6 separate regions of the Homo sapiens genome follow, and regions 1, 2, 4, 5 and 6 are each reported to be linked to region 3. Evidence: microRNA targets listed by miRTarBase, many of them from high-throughput screens and not tested one by one. Region 3 holds a microRNA gene; each other region holds the end of a gene's coding sequence. Distances are between the middles of the regions.

What was found. The annotated mature microRNA hsa-miR-3714 reads GAAGGCAGCAGUGCUCCCCUGU and lies in region 3 at 2,934-2,955, shown strand. An mRNA with a match to its seed (bases 2 to 7 or 8) in the 3' UTR can be bound and repressed. Matches are read on the target gene's strand: a 7mer-m8 pairs with bases 2 to 8, a 7mer-A1 pairs with bases 2 to 7 and ends in A, and an 8mer does both.
Region 1: the mRNA of TOM1L2 is a reported target of hsa-miR-3714. Seed matches in the 3' UTR shown: 7mer-m8 at 2,143-2,149 and 7mer-m8 at 1,712-1,718.
Region 2: miRTarBase lists MYOM2 as a target of hsa-miR-3714. The part of its 3' UTR that is shown has no 7-base or 8-base seed match.
Region 4: the mRNA of SRPRB is a reported target of hsa-miR-3714. Seed matches in the 3' UTR shown: 7mer-m8 at 1,141-1,147.
Region 5: the mRNA of SMOX is a reported target of hsa-miR-3714. Seed matches in the 3' UTR shown: 7mer-m8 at 4,264-4,270, 7mer-m8 at 4,205-4,211 and 7mer-m8 at 4,089-4,095.
Region 6: miRTarBase lists MTDH as a target of hsa-miR-3714. Seed matches in the 3' UTR shown: 8mer at 3,787-3,794 and 7mer-m8 at 263-269.

What each region holds. Positions count from the first base shown.
Region 1 is chr17:17,843,520-17,848,612 of GRCh38, forward strand. TOM1L2 (target of myb1 like 2 membrane trafficking protein) reads right to left here. Exons shown (of 15, transcript NM_001082968.2): 15 at 1-4,264. The coding sequence ends at 4,116. Among named protein-coding and RNA genes, the nearest start is that of SREBF1, 9.1 kb to the left of the region's middle. RefSeq lists enhancers at 748-1,268, 5,027-5,093.
Region 2 is chr8:2,144,594-2,149,514 of GRCh38, reverse strand. It overlaps MYOM2 (myomesin 2), which reads right to left. Exons shown (of 37, transcript NM_003970.4): 37 at 4,059-4,851. The coding sequence ends at 4,534. Among named protein-coding and RNA genes, the nearest start is that of MIR7160, 70 kb to the right of the region's middle.
Region 3 is chr3:16,930,263-16,935,355 of GRCh38, forward strand. MIR3714 (microRNA 3714) reads left to right here and starts at 2,934; the gene lies at 2,934-2,998. All of the region lies in intron 1 of PLCL2 (phospholipase C like 2), which reads left to right.
Region 4 is chr3:133,818,820-133,823,912 of GRCh38, forward strand. SRPRB (SRP receptor subunit beta) reads left to right here. Exons shown (of 7, transcript NM_001379313.1): 7 at 734-2,673. The coding sequence ends at 947. Among named protein-coding and RNA genes, the nearest start is that of SRPRB, 16 kb to the left of the region's middle.
Region 5 is chr20:4,186,655-4,191,747 of GRCh38, reverse strand. It overlaps SMOX (spermine oxidase), which reads right to left. Exons shown (of 7, transcript NM_175839.3): 7 at 4,021-4,478. The coding sequence ends at 4,341. Among named protein-coding and RNA genes, the nearest start is that of LINC01433, 3.9 kb to the left of the region's middle.
Region 6 is chr8:97,724,460-97,729,440 of GRCh38, reverse strand. It overlaps MTDH (metadherin), which reads right to left. Exons shown (of 12, transcript NM_178812.4): 12 at 1-4,841. The coding sequence ends at 4,771. Among named protein-coding and RNA genes, the nearest start is that of LAPTM4B, 49 kb to the left of the region's middle.

The DNA of each region.
Region 1 (5,093 bases), not on the chromosome of region 3:
TTATTTATTTATTGTGGAGTATTTTACATGCAAGAACCCAATTAGAGAGAGGGTATCTGGAAGGAGGGCCAGTGGGGTGGATGGATGCTCTGAGCCTCGGGTGCACTGACCCACCCTCCAGAACCAGCTCTGCCCACAGAAACACATGACAGTGACAAAAACACTAAACTTCTAGGACGAGTGGACAGCAAACGCGACATTCAACACATTCCTCTTTTCAGTAGCCCCCAACAATCCTGAGAATCCTCACAATTAAGTGCAAACTTTAGGAAATAAATATCCGTCCCCCTCTCCGGGAGAGCCTGGAGGTATGGACAGACAGAAGCAGTTCTGACTCGGGGGCTGATGGCTGCTCCCTATGGCTGGTGGCCGCAGGGGAAGCCTGACTTGGACCCCACAGATAGGAAGGGCTGGTGACGGGCACTGGGGGAGGCGAGCACTTCAGGGGCTGACAGACAATGTCTCTGGGGTGGAAACACTTCTCTCTGGGTGGGGAAGGCCTACTGTAACCCAAGTGGGTGAGACGTCCCCAAAGCCGACAGTGCAGAAGCTCCCAGGGACCACTCCAGCAGTGCCAGAGGCTGAAGCCAGGCTGCAAGCAAGTGCTCCTCCACACTGCTCTTCCAGAGCTGCCCCAGGGGCTGGCCTGGCCCCAGGTGGGCCCATGGCCTACCCCAAGCCATCCAGAAGGCTGGGCCCAACTGAGTTAGAGATGCGTGTCTGCGGGGGCCCAGGGTGGGGTGTGGCAGCGGGAAGGAGGGGGGCAGGAGCGTGAGCATCGGCAGCAGCTGCCCTGCGAGCATCTGTTGCCCTTGGGCCATGTGGAGCCCTTGCCCCAACTCTCCGGGCTGGGTCCTCTCCTCCCCAGGGGCTGGAGTGACAGCACAGGCCCCAAGACCACCAGGTGGCATGGTGGGGTGGTGGGGGAAGGCTAGTGAACCAAGGCACCATCACTCACATGGAGGCGCTAATAGAAAGACAGGAGGACAGACGGATGGTCACCTTTCCCTCTAGCCCAGGCCAGCAACAACCCCTTGAGGCTCCAAAGCTCCTTGTCCCATGCACGCTGGTAAGCGAGCCAGTCATTCTCTCAGCCTGGCCACAGATGGCCTGCTCAGTGCCTGGAGACTGCCCAGGCAGGGCTACTCTGCAGCAGGCAGGCCAAAGGCCCATGGTGCCAGGGGCCCAACTGCACATAGCGCCATTCTCTGCCGCCCAGTGGCCAAAAAGGTAGGCAGGAGGGAATGGTTAGTTTTCACATCTCAGCAACAATGAACGCAGAAAGGGTTAAACACATTCCCAAGAAAATATTTTGACAAAATAAATATTTTAACCTATAATCAGGTATAATTAGTGCTTATAAGGAATCCCAGCAATAATTTAGTGTAATTAAGTATATACTGTATCTGTGATTTCTAACACTCACGGAGAGGCTGGTGGGCCTTGAGAGTCCAGGTTTCCTGACAGAGCCGCACCCCCTTCCTGGACCAGGCAGCCTAAGGACTGTGCTCCCCAGATGGTGGGGTCTGGGAGCAGAGATCTCAGGACAGGCCATCTCGCCAGGGCTAAGTGGAACCCACTCTGGGGCACCGGGGCTATACTTGCTTCCTGTGCAGGCCTCAAGCAAGAGCCCCCTCTGCCTACAGGTGGGGCAGGCTACCTCCGGATAGGAGGTGCAAGCAGGCCACCTGAGGGGTGGCTCCAGGCTAGGAAGGCAGGTGACACTTGTCAGCATGGCCAATGGCCTCCTGCCAGCCCATACAGGTCCACCACTCCCTGCTGCCCCTGGGGCAGCCAGGCCTCTCCAATGATGCCTGGCAACCAGCTGGCGCTGGCGCTGGAGCTGGAGCGGGGCAGTTCTGGGAGTGGGTATGAAAAACAGTTTTGCTGGGGGCTCCCCAGGAGGGCGCCTATTTCAGCTTCACGCACTATGGAATCCCTGCTCCTTTCAGAGCCTCCAGGCTCCTGACTTTTTGGGACTCCTGGTTCCATGAGGCAGGGAGGCTGGCTCTTCCCTCTGAGGACACTGGGTCTGGGATGCAGTGCTGAGGCTGCGGAGCACTGACTGCCCGAGGTCGGACCGCCCACCACCCGCAGGCCCAGCTCTGGCAGGGCCTCAGAGACAACCCAAGTCACAACCCAAAGGCAGCCAAAGGGCTGGGGCCTCTGGGTGCACCTGGGCCATCCCAGCCACCTTTTCTGCAGCTCAAGTGAAGCCAGCTAACTTCAGCAGTCTTCACATTCAAGCTGGCCTCAGGGGGGTCTGTCTTTGAGAAACATTGAGGAGGCAGGGGCTCATCAAGCATCAGGGAGCAGAAGGCCCAGGCAGGTGTGGCATGTGCTGCCAGAGAGGACAGGGCTAGAATCAGGCTGGCCACTCCACGGAGGAGCTTCCTGGGTGAACCTGAGCAACTGGAGTGAGACATCCCAGCTAGTCCCACCCTCAGCCAGACAGAGGTTTCCTCTCTGGAGGGAGCTGGAGGGCTGCTAGCCTGGCACAGGGTCCTGGGTCGGGCAGCACTTGCTCTTCACTGGAATAGTTCCTGTTGGTGCTCAGCATGACCCCCAGCTGAAGTCGCCATCCTGAATGCTCCCCAACGACCATGTCGCTGGTCTCTTCTCCCGTCAAGCCCAGCCCCCTTTCCCTGCTTGGCTGGTGGTCTGGGCCGTCCTGCCAGGTGGGAAGGGCTAACTACACCATGGATCAGGAACCTGTGCTGACCTAGGCAGTGCATGCTGGAGGGGACAGGAGCAGACTGACCCAGCGAGCTGGGCCCAAGACACACGGGGATGCATACAGCTGCAGTATTCTCCTTCTGAGCAACAGCAGCCTGGTGGGAGGTGTGGGGCCAGGTGTCTGGCTGGACCAGGGCCTGGGATGACCCGAGTCCCTTGCCCATGGCCAGGAGACACACCAGTGAGGACACGGGATGGGAATACATGTTACCAGCCCCTAGCTGCTCTGCCTGCCTTCAGGATCAGCTTGGGGAGAGAGTATAAATTGGTGGCCAGAGGACCTCTGAGGTGGGAGGAGGCCAGACTGTCAGGAGAGTCTGTGCAAGGAGGCCAAGGCCTATGCCAGGGAGCAGAGCAGGGGCCTTAGTGCTGCCCAGGCCTCTCAGTCACTGGGAACCTCCAAGGATGCCACAAAGCTGTTTGCTGCTGGCTCTTGAGGCAGATGTGTGAGGCTACGGCAGGCCAGGCCACAGCACTGAGTGTGGCCCATGTGCACATCTGTGACACTTCCCCAGGCAAGCCAGAGCAATACCTCCAGTGCAAGTCCCTCCACAAGCCAGGACCAGGTGTGCGGGTGTGAGCCTGCAGTGTGTGCGTGGCAGTTTGGTTTATTGGTAGTGTCGTCTCAGCAGCGTGCCACATGGCCACCATCTGCGGGCTGCCTGCTGCCCTCCCAATTGTCCTTGGCCCTCTCCCTGCCCAGGGAGCCTGCAGGGACCCTCGGTGCCAGGCTCGGCTGCTGAGCCAGCTTGGGTGTGAAGCCTGGGCTGGCAGCTGAATGATGGAGAGAGGGTCAAGAAGGTGAGAGACCCCCACCATGGAGACCCAGCAGAGCCTTCTCAAATGCTGATAAGCCAAATGTCACAAGGTGACAAGTCCAAGGAGTGAGACCAGGCCCATGAGTGCAGCACACCCTGCTCTTCCAGAGATGCCACAAAGCCCCTTCAGGGAGAGAGGGGCCCAGGAGGGCAGAATGCCTGAGAAGGTCGCTGAGCCAGGCAGAGGTGAGCACAGGGCGGGGCCGGGCGTGCTCTTTCTCCATGGGCGGGTGGAGGAAAGACAGTCCGGGTGGTCTGCTCAGGAAGCACTGCCTGGGGCTGGGCCACTCTGCCCGCTCTTCCTGGGAGGAAACATGGGCAGAGGGGCCCATGGTGGGAGGGGAGAGAGTCTCTGGCTGCAGTTGTCCCACCACTCAGAGAAAAGAAGTGGCTGAAGCTGGTCCTGACTAGTGGGAGGCCTGGGAGCAGACACGGTGGCATTTCCATGGAAACACAGGTGTGCAGGCCGTGTGGAGCTGGGGATGTAGGAGTGGCCAGTGCCCGGTGTCCACGGGGTGCGAGCGGGGACCCGCCATCTGGGGAGGCAAACCACAGAGCTGCTCACAGGGCGAAGAGGGCATCCTCTGACCGCTCTGGCTTCTTCCGGCCAGAAGGGTTTGAGGCTGGGGCAGGAGCCTCCATGGGGGGCGAGGGGAGGTCGGGAACCATTTCAGCAGCTTTGGCTCTTTCTTCAAGGAATTTATCAAACTCTGCAATACAAACCAAGGCAAGGGTCAGGGTTGGTGAGGGCAGGCCACCAGAGGAAGCGCACCCTTCCACTCCCCAGCCCGTTTCCTCCTCTAGGGCAGGCATGAAGCCCACCTAGGAGCAGGTGGGTAGGGAGGGGTTCGTGAGCTGCAGTGTGGGGGGAGGCTCCTGGCTGTGCCCAGTCCTCCTGCCCTGGAGGGAAAGGCTCTGGAAAACACAGCCCAGAGTGCTCACCCTACCGCTGACCATTTTCCAGATCAGCACTGGGTTTTGTCCATTTTCCAGATCAGCACTGGGGGTGGGGCAGGGTAAGCTGGAGGGGCCAGCTTCTGATTAAACAGGCAGGAACCATCCCACCTACCCCACCCTTGCCCACCAATGGAGGACTGAGGAGATGCTGAGGAATGCAGTGGGGAGGGGGGAGTGCCCCATTTCTATGGGCACTGAGAGCTAGGGAGCAGGGTCCTCTGAAGTTTCCCTCCCTGCGGAGCGGTCTGGCCACAGGGTCTGGCAGACCTGGGGAGAGGAGGACAGGAGCACGGAGAGGCAGATGGAGTGGGGCAAGATGAGCTTGGGGAGGCAGGATGTGAAGGGCAGGGGATGTGGGGGTGGCCATGTGGGAGAACTAAGACCCCGCTGCTCCCATCCAGCCCATCAGCTGAGGCCCAGGAGAGGCTCCTCCCTTCTGGCTCAGTGGCCCAAGGGTGCTGCTGCGCACCTCCACAAACTGCGTGTCTGAGCTGGGCTGAGCACCTGTGGGTCAGGACCAGGTGGCAATCTGCACCCGCTATTCACCAGCTCTGCAACTTTGTGGAATTGACATGTTCTTTC
Region 2 (4,921 bases), not on the chromosome of region 3:
TATGATCACTTCTCTCCCTTTGGCTAAAATCAAGCATAAAAATTAGTCTATGGGCAGTTTTACTTACTTTTGTAAAATGCAAAATCCTTCTATGTCTCATATGAGCTGAACACACTAGCACATTCTCCAGGTAATAAGCAGGAATGAGTTAGTCTGCAAAAAATGTTTGTCTCACTCTTGTTAGCCCTTGACTCCATTTTGGAAGCCAATGACTCCTAACATTGTTAGTTTGAGGAACTATTGTTTTTTTTCATGCTGAGTCAAATTTCCACCATTTACACTCCCACAGACACAACCTTTACTCTCTTGGGCTCAGCATCTCCCAGGAAGATAACTTCTTCAGCTGGGCACCAGCAATTTTTATCTAACGATTCTCAAGAGGTGGCCACAGAAGCTGTTGAACTGATAGTCATTTTTAGCAGCTATTTGATTTATTTAAAAAGCCTCACTTCCACCCCGAAGCCCCGTATTTCATAATCCTGTGAATGTCAAACTCATTCTTTCTGTAACTGAGCTCTCAGAATACACATGCCATCACACACCCAGGACGTGCAGCCCCGATGGAGTCAGGAGACCCCTGGGCAGGTCCCGGAAGGAGAACTGCTCTGTGGAACAGCTGGCCTGGGCTCTCCAAAATTACCCGCGTCACTAATGACCAAGAAGGGTCTTCCAGAGAAGTAAAGCTGTGGCAACTAAACCCAACACGTGAGCCCAAACCGCATCCTGGACTCCAGCTGGGGAACGCCTCCAGGGACATTATCGGGATGACTGGCAAGGTTAGCATATGGACTGCAGATCACGCTGCTGTGTGACGGTCGGGTCCCTTGACTTTAAGAGCTGTGCTGTGGAAACACAAGGGAACACTCTGCTCCTTGTTCTTGGGAAAAAACCAAAGCACTAAGGGACAGAGAAGTGGGATGCCGACAACGTATGAAATGCATTTCCAAATGGCTCTAGGAAAATTTAATTTTTTCACAGAATCAATACCTCGGCAAATGACTCTGTACCCTCCTGGTGTCTTCCCGTTCCTTGTTTTGTGTCATCCTCACAGCTGTCAAATGAAACGACTCAGGCGAAGAGCTCCAACCACGGCCCTCTCCGTGCTGAGCATTCGCTGCCTCCACTGCCACATGCACGGATTCTTAAAAAGCGACGAAAGGGCGGAACCCTGACTTCCTCCAAGAGGGGCAAGCCCAGGACTTCCAGGCACAGGCAGTGGGCGACCTCGATGTCTTTCCAGGTGCTCAGTTCTCCGCATTCTGCCCTGAGGGAGTAGGGGTGATCCGACTGGCATCACATATCTTGAGATATTCATTTGCATAAACACAGCGGCACCCAGATCTTGGCTTCTAATCCCACCCTCCAGTAAAAGGAACCAGGGGTCCTTGGAGAAATGGGTCTAGGACTGGAGCAGGGAACGCACAGATGAGCCTGGGTGTCCTGCAGTGCCAGAAAACCAGGCTGTGCCCAAAGAGGCAGCTGTGAACAGACCCCGGAGGCCGGCAGAAAGGGCTCCCTGTGGCCAACACTGGAAAAACCTGAGCAAGAAAGTAGGCTGGGCGCGGTGGCTCACGCCTGTAATCCCAGCACTTTGGGAGGCCAAGGCAGGTGGATCACCTGAGGTCAGGAGTTCAAGAACAGCCTGGCCAACATGGTGAAACCCCATCTCTACTAAATATACAAAAATTAGCTGGGCATGGTGGCAGGTGCCTGTAATCCCAGGTACTCAGGAGCCTGAGGCAGAAGAACTGCTTGAACCTGGGAAGCAGAGGTTGCAGTGAGCCGAGATCGTGCCACTGCACTCCAGCCTGAGCAACAAAGGGAGACTGTGTCTCAAAAAAAAAAAAAAAAGAAAGAAAAGAAAGAAAATGCATGGCGAAACATGGGTCACATCCCAGAGCTGAAATACAGCACAAGAGTCCATACAGATGTCAGTAAATGATGGGATAAATAAATAAATAGGGAGAGGAGACAATCTTTCTTCCAGAAGAATTGCAAATAACAGAGGTAGATGCTCCTGCTCCAAGAGGTGAACGTGATTCCATGCTCTTGCTTCTTTGAGGGTGGTCTGGGCTGAGACAGGCTCCCAAGGAATAGAAGGAGAAGAGGAAAAAGCAGGCATTTCATGGGAGACAGCAGGCAGACATCACCTGAGCAAGTGATGAAGGTTAGCGGATGTCGGGCACCCCACATGACTCCTCTTCCCAAAAGCACACATCCCCAGTCTCATCACACGAAGATCGTCTTCCCTGGACTGGGGACCTGGATTGGGGAACATCCTACAAGATAACCAGCAAAACTCCTCAAAGCCACTAAGGTCATGAAAGGCAAGGACAGACAGAAACCATCGCAGGACGGAGGGGCTGGGAGACGTGAACAGCAAATTCATCTGGTGTCCTCGATGGGTCCTGGGACAGAGAGAGGGCACTGGGGGAACCCAGCGAGGTCTGAAGGCCACCCGGAGGTGAGGCCATCGTCTCGCCCCACAGCAACGCGAGACGTGAACAACAGGAAGACTGTGGAGTCCACTGGGCTCTCTGCGCCGTTGTAAAGACACTTTACTGCATGTCTAAGACTATTTCATTCTTTTAAAAAAAAAGTCTTTTAAAAAATATTATAACTCAAAACTATGGAGGCAGTAAAATGCTCAGTGGTTGAAGGGAAGATTTTTAGGGCAGAGAAAAGACTGTGCATGATGCTACAATGGTGGACCTGAGTCCTGATCACCCGACCAAACCCACAGAGCCAACAGCACCAGGAGTGTGCCCAGGGTAAACTCCAGCCCCCGGCAATGCTGACGCTTCAGTGTGGGTGCAGCAGTTGTAACAAGCGCCAGAAGCGAGCCCAGGGTAAACTCCAGCCTGCGAGGATGGTGACGTGTCAGTGTGGGTGCAGCGGTTGTAACAAGCACATCCCTCTGGTGGGAGGTGTTGGTAGCGGGGGAAGCTGTGGTGGGGGTAGGGGTTGGAGTGGAGATCTCTACCTTCCTTTTAACTTTGCTGTGAACCTAAAACTGCTCAAAAAGGAGGTCTATTAAAAATAGTATATATGGCTTCAAGAAATTCACAACCATTTGAATTATTTCCCATGAACCACGATTGCTAAACAAAAATGACTGTTTAAACTGGAAAATAAACAAAATCTGTTTAACTAAATCAAGGTCAAACTGAGACTGTCTGCGCCTACCCTTGCCAAGCACGCTTTGGAAAACGCGGCTGCCACCACGCAATAAGAACAAACTCCGCTCAAGTTCATCTGCACGACAGAAAAGGGAGAAATAACAAAAATAAAATTCTTGCTGATACTCACTTTACTGCCATGGAAACCAGCTCAGCCAGCTTTATGTTACTGGGGACATATTTAATTCTCAGGATTTGTATTATTACCTTAGAAAAATATAACAAATTCTCGTAAAATTTGGATTGCCCTTAATGACACAGAAAGGTAAAACATTCTTAATTATCAAAGCTTTTTCTGTTATAAAGCAACAATAAAACTAAAATATTGAAATGGGATTTTTATGCCAGAAGAATTTCAGCCTCTTTCCAAACAAAGGAGGAAAAAGTTCAAAGAGAGGGTATGTTCCTCCTAAACACGTTTTTTAACTTCACCAAGAGGCCTTGTGTAGGCAGCCAAGTTTTTATTTTTCCTCCATGGCTACTGCAGTGATCATTCTGAATGAGTGCCTTCTTTCTTTTGAAATCCCTTCCTAATTCATTAGCACACTAAAAAAGAACAGAGCCATCTTTGCATTTCATTTTCCTCTACAGAGACTTTTAGATCCGTGGTATAATCACTAGGTGGCCTTTCTAAGCCTTGCACAAAACGCACACTTCTTAGGACTGGTGCCGTCTTGGGTGCCGCTGGGGGCCAGCAGCCCAGCCCCGTGGGTCGGAGGGGCTTTGGGGGTGTGATTCACCATGCCCTGCTCTCTGGAGGGTGAGTGCACTATCTGCACCCCACCAGCCGTGAAAGTGCATGATAACCCATAATTAAACAAGCCAGGGGGTGAGCAGGGGCAGGTAGGTGTGATTTGGTACAGGAAAACCACAACAAGGTGATTTTTAAACTTTTATTTGCCTAAAGCAAGAGAAAACAAGCTTAACCAGGTAACACATGCTTCAAAGCCTCGACAGCCAGGATTTCAGAGATGCTAGATCTCGCGGCCCCCCAAAGAGAAGCACGGTGGCTTCACACAGACCGCCACATGCTGCACACGTCCAGGTGCCACACCCATGTGCCCACACCCGTGAAAATTCTAGTGTGTTGTCTGCCAACCCACTCTCTGTCAGGCATCTGCCGTCTACCCTCGTGTAAATACACGTTGTTCAGTCTTGTGGAAAACATTAGCTTTCTCCCTTAGACGGGTATAAAATATTCATCACCAAATGCAAAAATCAAAAGCACAATGTGTGATCAACTATCAGCCCACACAGGACACCACTCGGATGCCAGCTGCTCATTTGGAACAAGCACACAGCATTCCTGTCTCTGCCAAGCATATTTTCCCATCTCCAGGCTAGGAAAACGCCTTCACTGGCCTGCCGCTGAGGCAGACGCGGGGATGAGCTTGGGCTTGGCTTGCTGGGGCGGGGCCATGTCCGGGATCTTCTCCCCGTGTTTGTACACGCTCACTGTCACGTCGATCTTCTCCCCGCCATACTTATTCTTGATGTTGATGCTGTACTTGCCCGAGTCCTCGGAGGTCACGCCTTTGATGGTCATGCTGACGTACTTGGCCTGCTCCACCTTCACCGAGAAGTGCTCGCTGAGCTGGATGTCCTGGTCGTTCTTGAACCAAATCACTTCGGGGTCAGGGTTTCCAAACACCGTGCAGGTCAGATTCAAGGTCTTTGGACGGAAGAGGTTGGTGGAGAAGGAAGAGTTAGAAAAAGGAAAGTCATGTCACCCCCTCGGACGG
Region 3 (5,093 bases):
GACAGGCGAGATTTCACGAGTAGATGAAAGAACACCCAAATTTGAGGGAGCGTTCCAAGTTCATAAATACTTGTGGCTGAGAGAAAACAATGGCCCTCCCTCAAATACTGCAGGGAAGAACCAGTATTGGGAACAGCTGTGTTTGAAAGTCTCCTAATTGTTATTTATTCTATCTGTAGATCTATAGTCCAACCAATGTATGAATAGGACCTTTGCTGATTATATCTCTGTTTTGATCAGAACTGCTATAAATGAAAGAGTTGTAGTGTACTGTTTTCTTAAACTCCTAGGGTTTTACCACAAATCAGAGTTGTTTCTTGTGATACAGCCTTCTTCAGCCTCTGTTCGTCTCTAAGAAATTGAACCTAGAGTAGTAAACAAGTGATACTTCTGTAAACTCCCTAAGGGATGACTCCTCAGTTCTGTGAACCCCATCATCCCTCCTAATCTCAAGTCGCTTATTTTCTTATGCTTTGTGGAGCTCTCCTACAAGCACCTGAACTCCAGCATGTCCCAAATGTTATTCATGATTTTCTCCTTAAGTCTGCTGCTCCTGCATGAGTTCCTATGTCCATTAATGACATTCTTTATGACACAAGCAAGAAATCTTGGCACCATCTTTATCTCCCGTTTTGCTAACTCCCGTGTACATTTGACTACTCCATTTTCCAAGATGATATTCTAGGCATGTCAGTCTTCTATTTTTTCCTCTGTAAAGGCAGGTAGTAGGGTAGGATCCATATCTGTAACTCCAATGCCTTCTGCTTGGAAGATAATGCTTCCTGCTGGCCAGTTCCCATTCCTCAGCCCAAATACTACATCCTTGGCAAGCCATTCCTCTCTGAACCTCCTTCCCAGGAAGATGCATTCACTTCTTCCTCTGGATTGCCATTTATTTTTTTTTTTAACTCTAATGCTCATGAAACTTTGTGGTAAAATTTTATTTGAAGGTCTGGCTCTTCTGCTACATTCTGAGATCTTTGAGAGTAGGAACCCAGATTGTACTTAGATCCGTGTCTGGCACATATGTAAGCACAAAAGCTATTGACTATATTTAAGTGACTTGAATTAGAAAAAGATGTATGAAATAGAAGAGGAACAATTAAATGCTTATTTGTATTTGATCTCATTTTAGTCTTTTTCTCTTCCCATTTCATTCTCTCCTCTCCCTTAGAAAAAAAGCACGTAAATGTTCTGTTCCTATAAAAACAATTTAAATAGAGACTTTCTTTATCAGCAGACAGAATAACCTGGTTGCATTGTCAATGTTCTGTCTAAATGAAGTTTAACTAACAACTGTTGCCTTTAAGGGATAGAAAAGAAAACCTCACAAATATTATTTATAGAGAACATGCATTGGTCTTAGAGTCTGAGGGTCCAGGTTCCAGTTCGGTTGCTGCCATTTATTACGTGAATGACCCCAGGCAAGTCTCTTTTTTTAAGGTTCAGTTTTCTCCCTTGCAATGAGAATAACACCTCCCTGACAAGGTTATTTTAAGAACTTGATGAGATGTTGGATATGAAAGCATCTTGTATAGGTAAGACACTAAGTTCTGACATAGAATAAACTTATGATTGCATGTTTGTATCCCTGCAAAATTCATACATTGAGATACAATCCCCAGTGTGATGATTTGAGATAATTAGGTCATGAAGGAGGAGCCCTCATGAATGGGATTAGTGCCCTTATAAGAAGAGGCCAGAGAGCTAGCTCACTGTCTTTCTGCCATGTGAAGATATAAGGAAAAGGTGGCCATCTGCAGCCTGGAGAGGGCCCTCACCAGAACCCGACCACACTGGCACCCTGATCTCACACTTCCAGCCTTCAGAACTGTGAGAAACAAATTTATGTTGTTTTAAGCTACCAGTCTATGGTAATTCGTTATGGCTGCCAGAATTAGGATAGCTCTTAATTTTTAGTTGAATCTGAATTTATATGTATTTCTTAGGCCTGGATTTGAAAACCATTCTGCTATGTGGTTTAGGTAGTATCAGCTGTTAGCATACGCATTGTCTCAAGGACTAACTTTTCAATATCTATCTTTATTTCAGGTTAGTAACATCCTTTGTTTGGGAATAACATGCATATTATTTCATCTGATGTTTTCCTAAGACAATTAGATTGAATTTTTTTCTTCTCACTTAAGCATTTTGGAGTACCATTAGTCCTCTTCCATGTCTTAGATAATATTGAATTCAGGGTGTACTTTTAAAAATCTTGGTAGTTAAATTTAGCAGTTTTGTTTGGAGGTATTTATTTTCATCTTGGTAATAAGACAAGAAGTAAGATGTTTCATAATTACCATATTTTGTTTGGGATTTCTGCTGAATTTTCTCTCTCTCCATTGCAGTTCTCTTTTTGGAGAGGTCCTTCTCTCTACAGCCATATGCTGGTAGATAATGCACGGTAGCTGATCAGTGCTAGAAAATACAGGAGATCCAGAGCATATTACTCCCTTGAACGTATCTTTTAGCTGCAGGGAAAACAGATCTAAGGCATGAATTACAACTTATTAGTTGTAGATGGACTCTGTAGCCCAGTACTGATTAAGAAGAAACAGCCTCACTCTGTCTTGCCATGATGGCTGTTCCAAGTCAAAGGAAAAGGAGAAGTCTGTTGGAGAAGATTTTCTTTCTTTTTTCCTTCTTCTTCTTTTCTTTAGTTCATCCATTCATTTATTTTCTAATATTATGGGACACAAAAGCAGAATTTGTAGTTAGTACTCTTGGCTGTAGAAATTCGTAGTTTTGCTTTTCCTTTAAGGTTGATTCCAGCACCACTTTGTGAGAAGAAACTGTCATAGTTTCACATTGCCTCTAAGAAAATGAAACGTACCTAAGTATTATTGGACAGCCGGAGTATTTTACAGTGGTTGCTGCTCAGGAAATTTGAGTGAAGGACTGCAAAAGAGGAGCAAAGCAGACCCGAGAGAGAAGGCAGCAGTGCTCCCCTGTGACGTGCTCCATCACCGGGCAGGGAAGACACCGCTGCCACCTCTCCACAGCCTTGTTCAAGAGCACTGGAAATTGTAAGGTGTTTGTTTTGTTTCATTTTGGGAGTGGTGGAAGATTAGCCTTTGTGTTTCTCCTCTAAAGAGTTTTGTCTAAAACGCTTACGACTACTTAGTTAAACAAAAATCCAAAGTAAGCTATCATTGAAATATGAAATATACTAACAAAGCCAAACAGTAAAAGATTATACAGGGAAAGTCCTTTCTCCCCATTTTGACTTCACCCACTCAGTTTCCCTTCCCAGTGTCCTTCCAGAGAGATATTTGACTCATGAATCAGCACATATATTCATATGCCTGCTTTTTCATACACTGTAGCAGCATACTAGAATATTGTTCAGCATTTTTATTTCTTTTTTTTTTAACCTTACACTATTTCCTGATGTTTTCCAAGTAAATGTTTTATTTTTTTTCTTATGGTTGTGTAGTATACATCCATTGTGTAGATGGATGTGTAAAGTACACATCCATTGTATAGATGTGTAATTTATTTAGCCAGTTTCTTGAGGAATATTTAGGTGTGGTGGCTCATGTCTGTAATCCCAGCTCTCTTGGAGGCTGAGGGGGGCAGATCACCTGAGGTCAGGAGTTCGAGACCAGCTTGGCCAACATGGTGAAACCTGTCTCTACTAAAAATACAGAAATTAGCCGGGCATGATGGTGGGTGCCTGTAATCCCAGCTACTCAGGAGGCGGAGGCAGGAGAATCGCTTGAACCCAGGAGGCGGAGGTTGCAGTGAGCCCAGATTGCACCACTGCACTCCAGCCTGAACGACAGAGTGAGACTGTCTCAAAAACAAACGAACAAAAAAGTCTTGGTGTATGAATAAGGAAAGGAGCCCTAGATATTGGGCATGCAAAGGCTTTTGTGTTCTCTGAAAAGGTCATGCAATGATAGAAGTGACCCGAGACACCTGTAAACTGATGACCCACAGTTAAATCCACATAATGTGGCCAGTGCTGTGGTTTTGGGTAAGTGCAGGATGCTGTGGACAGTGGGTGCCTAAGAGCTACATTTCACTCAAGTGCTGGAGAAGCAGGAGAGATTGACCCTAAGGAAGTTCCTGCTAAGCTGAGCCCTGGAGAATGTGAGGAACATAGGTTAGGAAAGGGTAGAATAGTGTGAGGAACTGTGTTCTAGGAGAGGGAACACCAGCATGCCCAGAGATCATCATGGCCCGTTTGAGCTTCAGAAGTGTATCTGTTGGCAGTCTGGAGAGGAGACTGGCAAGGTAATCAGGCATTGGAATCACCGTAGCTCTCCATAAGTGTCAAGGAGGTTGGACATAAGGCTATGGGAGGCCAGTGAAGACCTTTATCAGGAGTGGGAGGTTATTTGATTTGTGTTTAAAAATCTCATCCTGCCTGCCAGGTGGAGAGTAAACCGGAAAGGGATGGGATGCTATGTAGGAAGCTGTTGCAGTAATCCAAGTGAAAGGTGATGGTGGCCTGAACTAGGAAATGGCAGTGCAACTAGGAAGAAGTAGACACAGAAGAGCTCTTCAGACAGTGGAATCAACAGGAGTTAGCAATTTTGAGACGTGGGCATGGAGGCAGAGACCCTCAGCCCTCTGGTTGTTCACTTTTAACAAAAAGATTATGTGCAATGCATTTAACATATTATTCTTGCATCTTTATGAAACCATCCTCATTATTTCTTTTGGACAAATCCTGGAAGTAGACTTGCTGAGTCAAAGGAAAGATCTTGAAATATTTCAATAATGTAGTCAAATTGCCTCCAGAAAGGCTAATACGCCAATTGTCCATTACCAATTAGGGCACTAGCTTCAGCCTCACTGAGTATTATCGCTTTGAATTGACACCAATCTGATAGGAAGAAAATACATACCTTTTCTTTATTTTAATTTGCATTTCTGTGAGTACTGGCAAAGTTGAAGTTTTTTTCATGCTTATCAACTAATTATATTTCCACAAATTACATATTCATATCTTTGCTTATTTTCCCCCTGAGGTGTTTATCTTTGTCTTTTTTATTTCTAAGAGCTCTATTACTCTTTAGTTGCTTAACCCTTTGTCTTTTCTATTTGTTGCAGGATTTCTCTCATTTATTTATGCTTTTGTT
Region 4 (5,093 bases), 120 Mb from region 3:
GTGTTCCTTCCTAAACAAGGTATTGCTTAGTTTTGCCTGTGGATTCTTCACTAATTTTGAAGCAACTTTACAGAACAAGAAATGCTTTATTTTGTAAGAAAGAAGATTGGCAGCATGTATTCCTCTGCTTCTGGATAGCAGAAAGGGGAAGGGGAGGCCGACAAATGAGTGTTGCTTATGCACCCTTTATTAGGGCCAGCAGGTGGCAGTAAGGGGACTTACATTGGGAAGGTTTTGGTGGTTAAAGAGGTTGGATAATAGTAATTCTGCCCTAGTTAGATATGAGAATCTGGAGTTGGTGGATTTCTAAACTCCATATCCAAATAGACTCAAGATAAAAATACATACCCTATCTACCCACACTTAACTTTCAGAAACTTATGTTTTTATAACACTTAAAGCATGTATTTTAAAAATATATTTTTAGACGGCTTCATTCAGTAGATCCTCTTAGAAGGGGGCCTTGGGCTGAAAGAAAGTTGGTGTGACCTGGTCTACTGCTGACCTGCCTTCTAGCCCTGTGAGGTCTGACCCCCCCAGCCCGCCCCACCTACCTCACCTCTCTGTCCAAGAGAGGGACTTATAAATGCAAAGGATTATTCAACAATCTTAATAGCATAATTGGCAATTCTATAGTTAAGTTTTAAATGAGTGCTGAAATGTTTAGAAACTAATATGATTTAATTGCTGTATAAAAATTTTGCCTCCTGACTTCTTTCCTTTTGCCCCACAGCAACACCTTACGAGTTACCCGTTCTGCTGCCCCCAGCACACTGGACAGTTCCAGCACTGCCCCTGCTCAGCTGGGGAAGAAAGGCAAAGAGTTTGAATTCTCACAGTTGCCCCTCAAAGTGGAGTTCCTGGAGTGCAGTGCCAAGGGTGGAAGAGGGGACGTGGGCTCTGCTGACATCCAGGACTTGGAGAAATGGCTGGCTAAAATTGCCTGAGAGGCAGCTCTAAAGCACAAGACCTGGATGTGTGACACACAGTTTTGGAAAAAGGTCTGTGGTAGTCTGGAGTTGATGAGGAAGGGGTACAAGATGTGGTTAGAAACATTTCTTTGTTCTGGAAACAAAGTACTGTTGAAACCAGCTTGGAATTTTTTTTTTTTTTTTTTTTAAGTTCAGTTCTCCCTTATGGCTGCCTTTCAAACAAGTACCTTTTATCTGATGCCTGTATCTTCCCTTTGTTAAGGTGTAACTTGATGTAGGGTCAAGGTTTTTGTGACAACAGGCAGACTCCACACAGAGAGGATATGATGAGAATATGGCCATCACCTGAAAAGTTTTCTTATCTTCTGTGCTTTTGGTCCCTGGAAACAAATCCGCCTATGTATGAAGCTAGTTGATTTCCAGTTGCACTATTTCCAGTTGCCTCTGAAGTTCACAGGCAATACATTGTCTAGTCCTTTGCGAATTTCTCTGATTTGTGGGCACAGTTATGAAGTTTCCCCACATGTGAAGACAGGTACAAAATAGCAGAGCCAAGCAGACAGTGGGTCTATTCTTCATTAGCTCAGTGACTTGTCCACACTCGTCTTAGCACTTACGTTTCAAAAGCTTGTCACAAACCCTTGGAGTCATTCCCAGATAATAGAACTGGAAATGATAAATCCCCTAATGCCAAGGGTCTAGTGTGTTCTTAGTGGTTATACTGGGAAGTGTGTGGAGATTTAGGTGCTGCTCTGCTGCTCTGGATGGCTGAAGGCTCCTGGGCCATCTTCATGTGCTGCTTGAAGAGCTCCTATTTTGTACTCCTGGCTAGAATGCTGTGGAACAAATACAAAGTGAAAAAAGTTCTCTGTAGATTTCTGAAGTGCATATTCATTGATGCCAAGAAAAAAAAAAAGTTGCCTTTTTGAAGTGATGTTTTTTGCTGTCTTCTTAAACACAAGGCTTTTTTGAATGATTAGTATATTTCATGGTAAAGAAAACAGCCTGTCTGGCTCAAAGCAATTAAATAGAATGTAATGGTGAGTACAAATGAGTGCACATGTCAGGACTCAGGTCTAACTCCTTGTCTCCTGAGCCTAAAGATTGCAACATACACAAGAACACACTCCTATTCCTACCCCACACACTCAGGGACAAGCCCAACTAAAGCTTACAAGGAGACCAGGGTGGCTCTGTCCAGGGGAGAAGCCAGTTATGGAACAGTGCATTGAGAGCCATGGTAGGAGAGGCCCACAGTTCTCTGGAGCATGCAGCAGGGGCACCCCACCTGGCCTTGAGGATCAGGGGGAGTCAAAGGATAAAGCATGGGGCTGATGACGTCTGAGGGAGTGTGATCCTCCATGTATGGCCTCTGCCTGCTGTCTCACATGTCCCTTCTGGTGGTCACTTGGGCTCTAGGAGTATACGTCACCTCAGACCATCTGGCAGAAATACTCCAGGCTCCTACCCCAAAGCACATGTCAGCCTTGCTGCTGGAGCACGAAGACAATGTAAATGAAACATGAAATGGAGGAGTTGTGAGACCCTGACCCTGAGTCCTTACTTGAAAGCTGCTGCTGGTGTTCTGAGTGTCTTTTGGACTCTTATTTCTTGCCCTTTTCCTTATTAGGCAAGCAGTAACTTAGGAAGTAGGTAAGAGCAATAAATGTGACATGTTATGTCATCATAGTAGGAGCTCATGGGAATAAAAGTCAGTGGCTTGATGCTTCTGTTAGAGGCATGTGTCCCTCTCAGCCTCTTTTATTTTTTTCTGGTTAATATCTTACTTTATTGGAGGAAGCAGCACACCAGAAAAAGTGACTGAAGAAGGGCTGCAAGTTTGAGTTTGATTCAAGGCCTAAAGAAGGTCTTCCAAAAAAGGATAATTCTATCTGGAACACTGGTCTCAAATGTTAGTGGGCATCAGAATTACCTGCGATGCTTGTTAAACTGATTTGAGGACCCTACTCTCAGACAATTTGATTCAATAGCAAGTCTGGTATTGCCTCAGGAATCTGCATGCTTAATAAGTCTTTTGTCAGTCGCATGGCACCCCTAGAGATGATCTGGCCTGGAGTGTCACGTGTGCCTTTACTTTGTTTTTAAAGTCTCTTGGGGCACACACCCTGCTGAGTTTTTCTGACAGGGTCAAGTCAGCAGGCATGGGAACTCTGACCTTGCTTCTTACTCCTGTACTAGTAGCAGGCATTCCGTTCTTGTGGCTTTGGGCCAGGATGAGGTCATGGTGACTAGTCTTTGGGAACTGGGAAGGGTTTTGATGGGAGGTCAAATGTGCTCTCTCCACTCAGGTGGTGCCCTTTTGTGGCCCTGAGGGCATTTGACTAAAGTAGGCCCATTTCATGAGATGGGCAGGTGTGGCCAGAGTAGAAGGATGGATGTCAGGTCTTGGAGACGGGCCAACTAGGCACGACTGTATGACATAGATGAGACTTTTGAGCTTGAAACACCTTGGGAACATGGCAGTGTATGGACACCGAGACCTCCTAGGACAGCAGCTGCCTAATGCAAATGACCCTGTTCCCTGCTAAGGCTGCAGTGAGATGCCCTCATGGAGGGGCAGCTGTGATGAGTGAGCCCCAGGCACTCTGTTGGTGAATATGTCCACTTCTGGAATGGAATCTCCCTAGTGGGTATGGACACGGGCAGACCCAGAGGGGTCTAAGCACTGCACTGTTTCTTCCTTTGGCTCCTCTCCAGTCCGGGCCTTGGTAGCCTCTCCACTACCAGGTGCCTGACAGTCTACTGGGGGTTCCTAATCAACAGCAGCTGCTGTTGGTGGGGAGTCCCTGGGGTCTGTCACTTCTTCCCACTGCCTCTGTCTCAGTGCCTCCTGGGCTGTCAGTGTTCCCCTGTGGTCCTGCCTTGTATGAAGCGCTGGCCATGCTCTGTTGACTTAGATCATTTCAGCCAGTCTATGTTTTTTCTTGTTTTTGAAGTTTTGGGTTCAGCACAATTGTCAAAGCTTCAGTTGGCTCATGCCTGTCCTCACCTGAAGGCCATCAGTGGCAATTAAGATGCCTATCTCTTTATCTCATCCCTTCACACATTTAAGGAAAGGTGATCACCCACCTACCTTCATTTAAATGCGCAGGAAAACAATCCCACTTCCCTTCAACTGTAAACCTCGAGAAACTTGACTGCTCACAAGAGCCTTGTACGCATTTATCCATTGGGTAAAGGCCACGCCTTGCAGCAGACCATGGAAATACTAAACAAAACGCAATTCCTGCTTTAGAGGCTAGTAGCCCCATTCTGAGGTTAAGAAACGTGCCCTTTCAGTGTGGTTTCCCTGCTCTCTCAGTAGTGTGAGCTCCATCACTGCTGCACTTGACTCCTAAGCGCTGTGTGGGCTTGTGGTCAGCTGCCAGCCATGCAGCCCCAACGGGACTGCCACTTTTCCACTGGCCTCTGAAGTGCCAGTGTTCCCATGATGCTGATGTGTGAGGCACATGGCCATGTTCTGTTGACTTGAATATATTGTTTCAAGGGTTTTTTTGTTTTGTCGAGACAGAGTCTCACTCTGTCGCCCAGGCTGGAGTGGCAGTGGTGCCGTCTCGGCTCACTGCAACCTCTGCCTCCCGGGTTCAAGTGATTCTTCTGCCTTAGCCTCCCCAAGTAGCTGGGATTACAGGCCTGTGGGACCACTCCTGGCTAATTTTTAGTAGAGATGAGGTTTCACCATGTTGGCCAGTCTGTTCTCAAACTCCTGGCCTCAATGTCTCTTCTAATCAAAGATGGCTTCCTTGAGGTGGCAGCAGATTGGAGGGTGTTCTGGAACCTTTATAAGCTTTAAAAGGAAAGGTAATTAGTGAAGTTGGACTTGAAGAAGAGTGAGATTCCCGGGCAAGGGCAATTTACCTAATCTTGGCCTTTGTTCCTCTTTGGATTGGTCCCAGGACTGTGCTGGCTTTCTGAGCATCTTTTAGTCTGGAGATAACTGAGACCTGGAGGGGCCACTCAGGGATGTTCCTAACTGGTGTGGTGTGGGGCTGGGGATGGAATATGGCAGCTAGATGTTGTCAAAGGTCATTATAGTTCACCTTAAGTTCTTGCCTTTAAATGGCTTTCTGAAAATCACCAGAAGCATGAGAGATCCAGTCCCTGTACCCTCTCCCCCCTTCCTAATCCCCTAGCCATGGC
Region 5 (5,093 bases), not on the chromosome of region 3:
TTGAGGTTAATCCATGTTGTTGCAAATATCCATTCCTTTTATTTATTGCTATATAGTATTCCATTGTGTGAGTGCACTGGAATTCATTCTACTGTTGATGGACATCTGGGCAGCTTCCAGTTTTTTAGCTGTTAGGGTCCATGTTACTGTGGACACATTGGTATATATGTTTGGTGAGCACCTGCACGCCTTTCTCTTGGGTGTATACCCAGGGGTGGGAACGCTGGCAAGCACATGGCCAGTTTTAGCTGACTCCGCCACAGTCCCCCAGTGTGGTCGTACCACACCCACTCTCTCCAGCAATGGCCTTAAGCTTTTTTGGTGGCACCAGCCTCTTCTTTTCATCATACAATAGAACGAGCCTACACCACGCAGTCAGACAGACTTCAGCTCATGTCTCGGCACCTCTGAGCAACCCTGGGCAAGTTACTTAACTTCTCTGAGGTTTCACTTGCCCACAGGAATAAATAAAGCCTGAGTTGGCATCACTGTCAAATCAGTATCACATTCACATGGCATAGTGCCAGGCAATTGGCACTAAGTGAATATTCTCTCCCTCCCTCTTACCCACCCATGAAGCTCCCTGAAGTGCAGTCACCAAGTAAACATTTCCAGACCTTTCACCCCACCATGGAGTCCTTTAAAATTCCTCTGCCTATACACTGAGAACCTATTTATCACTTTCTTCCCCGATACTTATGTGATGGGGCTGCTTGTCTCCATCCCACTGCAGTGGATGGGGAAATCCAACAACTGAGGAGTCAGAAGCAGACAGCAGACTATGAGTCATGGAAGGTAACAGGTAATAGAAGGTGGCTTCCATAAAGTGACCCTGGGCCAGGGAGGAGACAGACATGCTTTGACCAAAGTAAGGTCCAAATTTACATTGTCTGCTTATGTACCATTACAGAAAGATGTCCAAGACATATTGTGGGTTTTTTTGATTTTTTATTTGTTTTTCTGTTTGTTTTTGAGACAGAGTTTCACTCTTGTTGCCCAGGCTGGAGTTCAATGGCGCGATCTCGGCTCGCTGCAACCTCCACCTCCTGGGTTCAAGCAATTCTCCTGCCTCAGCCTCCCGAGTAGCTGGGATTACAGGTATGCATCACCACACCCGGCTTATTTTTTGTACTTTTAGTAGAGACAGGGTTTCACCATGTTGGCCAGGCTTGTCTTGAACTCCTGACCTCAGGTGATCCACCCGCCTTGGCCTCTCAAGGTGCTGGGACTACAGGTGTGAGCCACCGCGCCCAGCCTACAGGACATATTGTTAACTAAAACAAGCAAAATCAGGACAAGATGAATACTTTGGTGCTTTTGTATAAAAAGGAGGGAGAAGAGTGTTTTTATATTGACTTACATCTAGGAATGGATACCCCTAGGGCTGTGGGAGAGGCAACAGTGACTGGGGACACTGTGAGAGGGAACATTTCAGTGTATTGTATCCACGTGGACAGCTTTTGGGCTTAAACTACATGAACAGATCATCTATTCAGACAATTTTTCATATATAGGCTGGGCATAGTGGCTACGCCTGTAATCCCAACACCTTGGGAGTCCGAGGCGGGTGGATCACCTGAGGTCAGGAGTTTGAGACCAGTCTGGCCAATATAGCAAAACCCCAACTCTATTTAAAATAGAAAAATTAGCTGGGCATGGTGGTTCGTGCCTTAATCCCAGCTACTCGGGAAGCTGAGGCAGGAGAATCGCTTGAGCCTGGGAGGTGGAGGTTGCAGTGAGCCGGGATCATGCCACTGCACTCCAGCCTAAGCAACTGAGTGAAACTCCGTCTCAAAAAAAAAAAAAATTCATATATATATTTAGACATTTTTCAGTTATGCCAGCAGGTGGGTATGAATCCCTTGATATAAGCTCCATGAAGATTTCTGGCAGATCAACCCTGGCAAAGCAAAATGTCTGTGAGGTTTGTGCATGTAGGTGTGTGTGCGTAAGTGGATGCAGGTAAGCATGTGTGTACGTGTGTCTGTGTGTTAGACATCTCCATCACAACCTACCAGCCTGGGCAATATAATGAGACACTCTCTCTACAAAAAAATAAAAATAAAAATTAGCCAGGCATGGTGGCACATGCCTGTAGTCCCAGCCACTCCTGAGTAAGGAGGATCATTTAAGCCCAGGAGTCTGAGGCTGCAGTGAGCCATGATCGCACCGCTGTCTCCAGCCTGGGCAACAGAGTGAGATGCTATTTCAATCAATCAATCAATCACCTGGGAGGAGGAAGGGGCTGTCATGTCCTGTCAAGGGCAGGGCCCTAAATGTCCATGAAGGGGACCTGACCTAAGCTCTTCATAACTTCTCCCCATCACCCCACCCTTCAACTCTGTAGAATTCAAATTTCATCACTAGAAATCTAGGATAACAAAATGACTAACTGTTCTTTAAGATGACTGGGGACAGTGTGAATGGGGACATTTTAGTGTATTCTTATATAGCTTTTGGGCTTAAACCACATGGACAGAGCCATGTGGATCTGAATTCAAATTTCATCACTAGAAATGTGGAGTAACAAAATGACTGTTCTTTAAGGTTCTGTGTGTGTGTGTATGTAGGTAGGTATATGTGTAGGGTAGAGAGGTGAGTGTATGTAGGTGTGTGTACCTGTATATGTCATGTGGGTTATGTGTAAGGTGTAGTGGTGAGTATATGTAGGTATGTGTACCTATATATGTGGGTGAGTATATATAAGGGGGTAGATGTGTCTTTTTACTCAGCAAAAAGAGAAGAAAAAGAAGTTTTTCTTTTTTAAAAGACATCTGTAGAGATGGGGTCTCACTGTGTTGCCCAGGCTGGTTTCAAGTTCCCAGGCTCAAGCAATCCTCCTGCCTCAGCCTCCCAAATTGGTGGGATTACAGGCATAAGCCACCATGTCCAGCCTAGGACCCTTTTCTAGATGCCTAGTATGTAAAGGAAAGTATTGATTGCTTTATATTTGGTGTGTGAATTATTCCTTAATACTGAGAAGCTTGACAGCTTACATGTAAAGGATTACAAATAACACCTTCTTTTATTTTTCTGAGACAGGGTCTCACTCTGTCACCCAAGCTGGAGTGCAGTGGTGCAATCATGGCTCACTGCAGCCTCAGACTCCTGGGCTCAAGTGATCCTGCCACCTTAGCCTCCCAAAGTGTTGGGAGCACTGAACCCAGCTGACGAGAAGAAAAATCTATTCCCCAATAAATGGCAGGCCTTAGGATATTCCCCCTGTCAAAAAATAAAGCCCAGAATGACCATCTGCCCAGAGGTTCAAAAGAAGGCCACCCCAGGGGCCAGACCCACAGCCCAGTGGACAGGTGACGCTAATTAACAATGAACAAGCCAGGTGCGGTGGCTCACCCCTGTAATCCCAGCACTTTGGGAGGCCAAGGCGGGTAGATCACCTGAGGTCAGGAGTTCAAGACCAGCCTGGCCAAGATGGTGAAACTACAAAAATACTAAAAATACAAAAATTATCCAGGCGTGGTGGCGGGCGCCTGTAATCCCAGCTACTCAGGAGGCTGAGGCAGAGAACTGCTTGAACCCAGGAGGCAGAGGTTGCAGTGAGCCGAGATTGCGCCATTGCACTCCAGCCTGGGCGACAGAGCGAGACTCCGTCTCAAAAAAAAAAAAAAAAAAAAAAAAAAACAATGAACATACCTAGGCTTGGCATGGAGCCACCACCACTGGGGGTCCCCCCCACAGAACTCCTTCACTCCAGGCAGTGTGTCACTCAGTTAAACTCAGAGAAGTCCAGCAAAAAAAAGGGCCAGCAAGCAGACTCAGGCCAGACCTGAAGGAGCAGGTGTACACTGAGAGGCCCGTATTCCTGAGGGGCCTTACTGGCAGGAAGGTAAACACCCCAACAGATGGGGGGAGGGGACATCCCTTCCAGTAAAAGCAGCACCTTCCCTCTGGGGACACAGCCAGGCCAGGGCTCCCCAACCTTCTCCCTCTCACTCAAAGGCGGTGTGACAGAAATAAACACACACACATACACAGAGGCTGAGAAAACCAGAGAGAAGCTGAGGGGCAGGGGAGGGAGCCTTTTTTATTATCCCAAAATGCAAAGTATTGAAGGCACTTACAATAACAAGGCAGGACAGAGGGTAGGCAAGTGGGGGCACGGGATCCAGCACAGAGGTAACTCAACGGCCCACCTGCTCACGGCCCAGCCTGGAGAAAAAGAAAAGCTACAGGGCCAGGTCTGAAGGCAGTCAGGGCGGCTAGCTCTACAGAAGATAAAAATCCTTTCTACAGAGGATCAGGAAGGCAGGAGCACACGGCAGCAAGGGGCAGGCTGGAGGTCACGAGTTAGTGGCTCTTCTCAGCAGCGAGGACAGCCCTCAGGTCCCCTGCTGGAAGAGGTCTCGGTACATCTCAATGAGGCGGGCAGCCTCACGCTGGCCGGACAGCAGAGCACCGTGGGTGGTGGAATAGTACTTGCGGTGGGTGGCCTCACCGGAAAACAGCACCTGCATGGGCTGCGGGGCGGGGATGGGGAGGTCAGGGTGGAGGAGCAGCAAAGGCCAGAAGGCCACAAGGCCACCCCTCTCCACCAGAACCTCCCATCCCAATGACAAATTAGAGAGGCTCTGAGACGCAGGTGCTGCTGCTTCCACAGGATGAAGAGCTGCCCATCCTATCTGGCCACTTTCCCCTGCTTCTTCCCTTGGCTCTTTCTGTCTTGAGGCCATTAGGAGTCCCGGCTCTGTGGTCTCAAAGGCTCTTTGTGCCTCTTACTTGTCAACTTGAGGCAGGTGGTTTAACCTCCCTAAGCCTTGCTTTTCTCATCTTCCAAATGGGTTTATACCACCTACTTCGGAGGGTGGTTGTAAGGATTAAGGGAAATCATGTATCTAAAGCACTTAGAACCTGGAAGAACAAAGCACTCAATAAAGTCGGTGGTAATTTGACAAACCTTTACGGCGCCCCTGTTAGCATCCAGGGGCTGTTCTGGGCACTTGGAAGAGAAAAGGTGACCAGGCTGCTGCTTTGTGGAGCTTCCATGCTGGTGAGGAAGCCAGACATGAAACCCAATTACTAAACAGCGTCATATGTGATGGAATGGGTGTTTGCACAAGGCGCCGAAAGCCCAG
Region 6 (4,981 bases), not on the chromosome of region 3:
ATGACAACCCAGATAGAATATTACGTCCCATCCAGCTTCATGGCTAGTGGGACCAAGCAACTGTTTGAAATTGAAGTTTATGTATTGTGTGTAACTTCCAAGAAGTGTTCTTGGGGGTGGGGGAGGTAATGCCCTCTACCAGCTGGCTCAGATGCCGATAGGAAGTTTCTAGCTAGAGCAGCTGTCTTCAAGTAAGAACTGAAAGCCACATGTTGGCCAGGTGTGGTGGCTCACACCTGTAACACCAGCACTTTGGGAGGCCAAGGCAGGAGGATCACTTAAGCCCTGGACTTCAAGGCCAGCCTGGGCAACATAGCAATGACCTCATCTCTACCAAAAAAAAAAAAAAAAAATTTAGCCAGGCATGGTGGTGTGTACCTGTAGTCCCAGGTACTCTGGAGGCTGAGGCTAAAGTGGGAGAATATAGCTCGAGCCCGGGAGTTCCAGGCTGAAGTGAGCCAGAAGTGTGCCACTGCACTCCAGCCTGGGCAACAGAGTGAGACCCTATCTCATTAAAAGAAAAAAAAAAAAAGCTACAGGTTGAGAATGGGGAGGAACAATATAGAAAGAACCCGGATCCCTGACCCTGCATAATGTCATATGGGCTCTGGATTGCCTTCCCAAACTTTAATATGAAAGAGAAACAATCTTTTTTTTGTTTCTAATTTTTTTTTTTTTTTTTTGTCGAGATGGGGGTCTCTCTATTGCTCAGGATGGTTTCAAACTCCTGGGCTCAAACAATCCTCCCGCGTTGGCCTCCCAAAGAGCTTGGATTACAGGCATGAGCCACCATGCCCAGCTGAGAAGCAAACTTCTATCTTGTACAAGCAATTGCTGTTTGGGGACACAGCCAACCTCATACATATGAACTAATGCATGCCAAGTTTTAATTTCCTTAACTGAAAAGGCTGATGCAAATGACATATTGCACCTGGTGGCAGGCAGCTACATCTACTGCTAAAATGACATAAGATAGAAGAAGTTTTCTGTAGAGAACATTGTGTGTCACAAACAGTGACATTTTCAAAAGTGCTTAATTCAATATGACTTCCCAGCGGCAAAGCTTGCACCTATGGTTTTAGGAAAACAACAACAAAAAGTTTAGTCTAGCTTAAGATGCAAAATGACTGACAAAGTCCCTCCCCACAAGAGAACTGTAACGAGCAATTTAAACAAATCAAAAATGGTTTGTTTTATTTACAATACTCAATGCATCTTATGAGTAACATATTTGCATTCCCTAAGTCTTTTGGAAAGTAATTCCAGTTTGTGCAGTGAGTTTACAGGAAAATCTTAAAGATATCTAGTAGACATCTTAAACCTAAACTCTAAATTTTGAAAGATATTTCACACTATATTAATAGAGGACTGTTTTTAATTAAGAAAAACTAAACTCTGTAAATATTGCCCTCCAGTATCTTTAATGCAAATATAAACCAGATTAGCCTATGAAATAAGACCACTAGATTTGGGTGAATTATTCTGACCTCCCCTCCCCAATAAAATGCATGCATAAAGTAAACATGGTAAATTACATCAATCACATTTTAATACTTTTTTTTTTGGACTCTCTCAACTGTTGTTTGCTCAATTGTCGGTACAGATAGGTAGGATTCCAGTCTGGAGAAACCCCTAAACCACTACACCCTGCCTCAGAGTAGGGAAGAATTTTCAGTATGTATGTGGAGACAGGCTGGATTAGGGAGCCTTTTGAGTGGCTTCTCTAGGATACCTTTCTTGCTAACATGAGCAAGGTTCCCCTCCAGGCCTGATAAAGCCTGAAGAGGTTAGTTATTTCCCTACTAGTTCTGGAAGCATCTTATTCATGCCACCATAGGAGGCTGTCTTCCCCTGCTCCTCCCTGAATCACCACCTAGATTTTAGTGCTTTCTGAGTTGATGATGGAAACCAGTTCCTGTTCAGGTGCCAGAAACTTTTTTTTTTTTGAGATTGAGTCTCGCTCTTTCATGCTGGAGTGCAGTGGTGCGATCTCAGCTCACTGCAACCTCCACCCCCCGGGTTCAAGCGATTCTCTGCCTCAACCTCCTGAGTAGCTGGGATTACAGGCGCCCACTACCACACCCATCTACTTTTTGCAAATTTTGTAGAGATGGGGTTTCACCATATTGGCCAGGCTGGTCTCAAACTCCTGACCTCAGGTGATCCACCTGCCTCAGCCTCCCAAAGTGCTAGGATTACAGGCGTGAGCCACCGTGCCAGAAACTGTTTTTATGTCACATAAAGATCTATGAAACAAGGTAAAAGGTAATTAAAATACTTTGTGACAGAGTTTGCACCTCATGCATGTGAAAGAGAATGTAATTAATTTTATCATTTATATAGCTGCCATCTTTTTTTTTTTTTTGAGACGGAGTCTCCTTCTGTTGCCCAGGCTGGAGTGCAGTGGCACGATCTTGGCTTTGCAAACTCCGTCTCCTGGGTTCAAATGATTCTCTGCCTTAGCCTCCTGAGTAGCTGGGATTACAGGAGCCCACCACCACACCCAGCTAATTTTTTTTTTTGTATTTTTAGTAAAGATGGGGTTTCACCCTCTTGGCCAGGCTGGTCTTGAACTCCTGACCTCGTGATCCACCTGCCTCGGCCTCCCAAAGTGCTGGGATTACAGACGTGAGCCACTGCACCCGGCCAGCTGCCATCTCTTAAAACAAAATCCAAGTCCTAGCTCTTGAGCCATAAAGAAGAAATAGAGGTATCTCTATACTGGATCCACCTCAACTTAGCAACGCATCTCTGCATCTCCACAATGCCATTCTCCTCAAAACATCTGCTGTCTTTAACATCTGGCATAGGTGGTAGAATGGGGAGATACTAGGCTGCAGAAATAAAATCCAACGTTTGACAAAGCCAACAGAATTTTGAGATAAAGAAATGGTGAGGTAGAGTTGAGAGAGTTCAATTATATTGTTGAGCACAGACCATTTGGCACATTCTAAAATTAGATTCCCTATCAACTTCTCCTTTGTGGTACCTTTACAAAATGCTGACACCTTAGGAATCCTCCAACACCTATGTAAAGCTAACAGAATAAAGTCATTTGAAGAAATTCATCCTTGGCTCTTTAGCTATTATCTACCCCCATATTGAAGCAAATAAAAAACAATGCTATCCATTTGCTGAATTTATTTAAACAAGTCAATTTAGAAATACCATAGAATTAAACAAAACTTCTGACATGTAAACATACTGCCATGTTCCTGAAACAGATGTTAACACCTGATAAAAGTTAATAATCTCTTGTTAGGAAAGCTGTCCATTAATAAGGCCAGTCTTCAGCAAAACTAAAACCATTTTGTTCGTTTAGCTTTCCTAGTCTGACAACGCAATACTGTTGAACCACAGTCAAATATAATGACAACATTGGATGGATAGATCAGTACCATTGGTTACAGCTGTTAAACAGGTTCGTTCTTGGCGCCACATAAAAACAAGCCAATCACATCGAATAAATCATGGCTTTTTTTTCTTTATCACAATTCACTAAGTGATGTTAATTATGGTCCTTGTCAAACACGTTTGGTAAAGGCTATTTACAGTGTACATGGCTGAGCATGCACTATTTATAGTTACAAAGATACCTGCCAGTTTATTACAATAGAATTACACAGTGCCTGAAAATGGTGAAACATCTCACACATCATTTAAATCAATATAATTTCAAGCAGGAAACGTTCCTTATTTGACCACAATTGCAATAATTACATGAAAATTCTTATAAAAACATGAATCTCCTTCAAGAAATTGATGCATATTCTACGCACTACAGGTTAAGGCAGTAAAAAAATGTATTCCTGATAACTGGAGGTGTTGACAATGTCAATTAAAGCTGTCTGACTCTAGTTTTTCATTCTCCATCATATACCAAAAGTTTGTGAATGATTTCATTTTTAAAGTCAACAAAGTATTAGTAACTAAGAAGAGTTGAAGCTGGAAAAAAGTAATTGCTAGGGAAGGGAAAAATGTAAATTGGATTTTGCCTGAAAGTTTTCAAATCATAAACAATAGCATTATTTATGAGTCTAAGCCTTAAATGTATAAAACAAATACATATAGTTCACTTTTCTTAATTTAAAATATACTGTACTTTGAACAATTCAAGTAATGTAAGACTATCAAAAATAACTTCATAAGCCATACACAAGTGTCAACTGCATTTTCAGTATTTTAAGAACTTTTTAAAAATTGTAAACTAAACCATGACAGTTTAGTTAAACAAATGATAAATGACTTTTTATTTGCACTTGTGATTTCTTTAATACAAATTGCTACCAACAAATATGTAAAGATATGGCAGGTTATGCATTTGATCAAAGCACTTTGATTTAAGCATAAAACAGATTCAAATGGTACAAGTTCTGTGCATAAGATCCAAGGAATTGCTTACTAATCTGTAGGCAACCCTCTTTCTAATCAGAATCCTTTATTCCTCGGCTGCAGATGAGATAGGGCACAATCTGTTGTAAACAGGGCACTGTTGTTAAACCAGGATAATATTCTTAAATTAAGATCGTTCTTGTTCTATTAAAAAGACTTTCCCAAGTGTCTTCCATCACTGAGTATATTCTGCTGACCTCTTAATTTCATAAATTAACTTTCTTTTGATTCCATTTTTATGGTGGTGTCCGCAGTTTTGTTTTAAAAATTGGTTTAAATTTATATAAAACTCTGTACATGTTCACAAATTATTGCATAAACAGCATAATCTTCAAGACAAGTGTTTGCAAACACATGTCCAATTCAGGAAAAAAAATTTCACGTTTCTCGTCTGGCTTTTTTCTTCTTTTTTATTTGTTTGGGAGATTCCCAGCTAGTTTCAGACTTGGCTAAAAAAGAAAAGGGGGAAAACGAAGAAAAAAATTAGGAGGATGGTAAATACTGTTACGTCTCAATAATATAAAAGTAGTAACTATGAAACAATGTTTTAAAATACTCAAATTTTATGTTTAAGTTTTCAAGCCCTCGT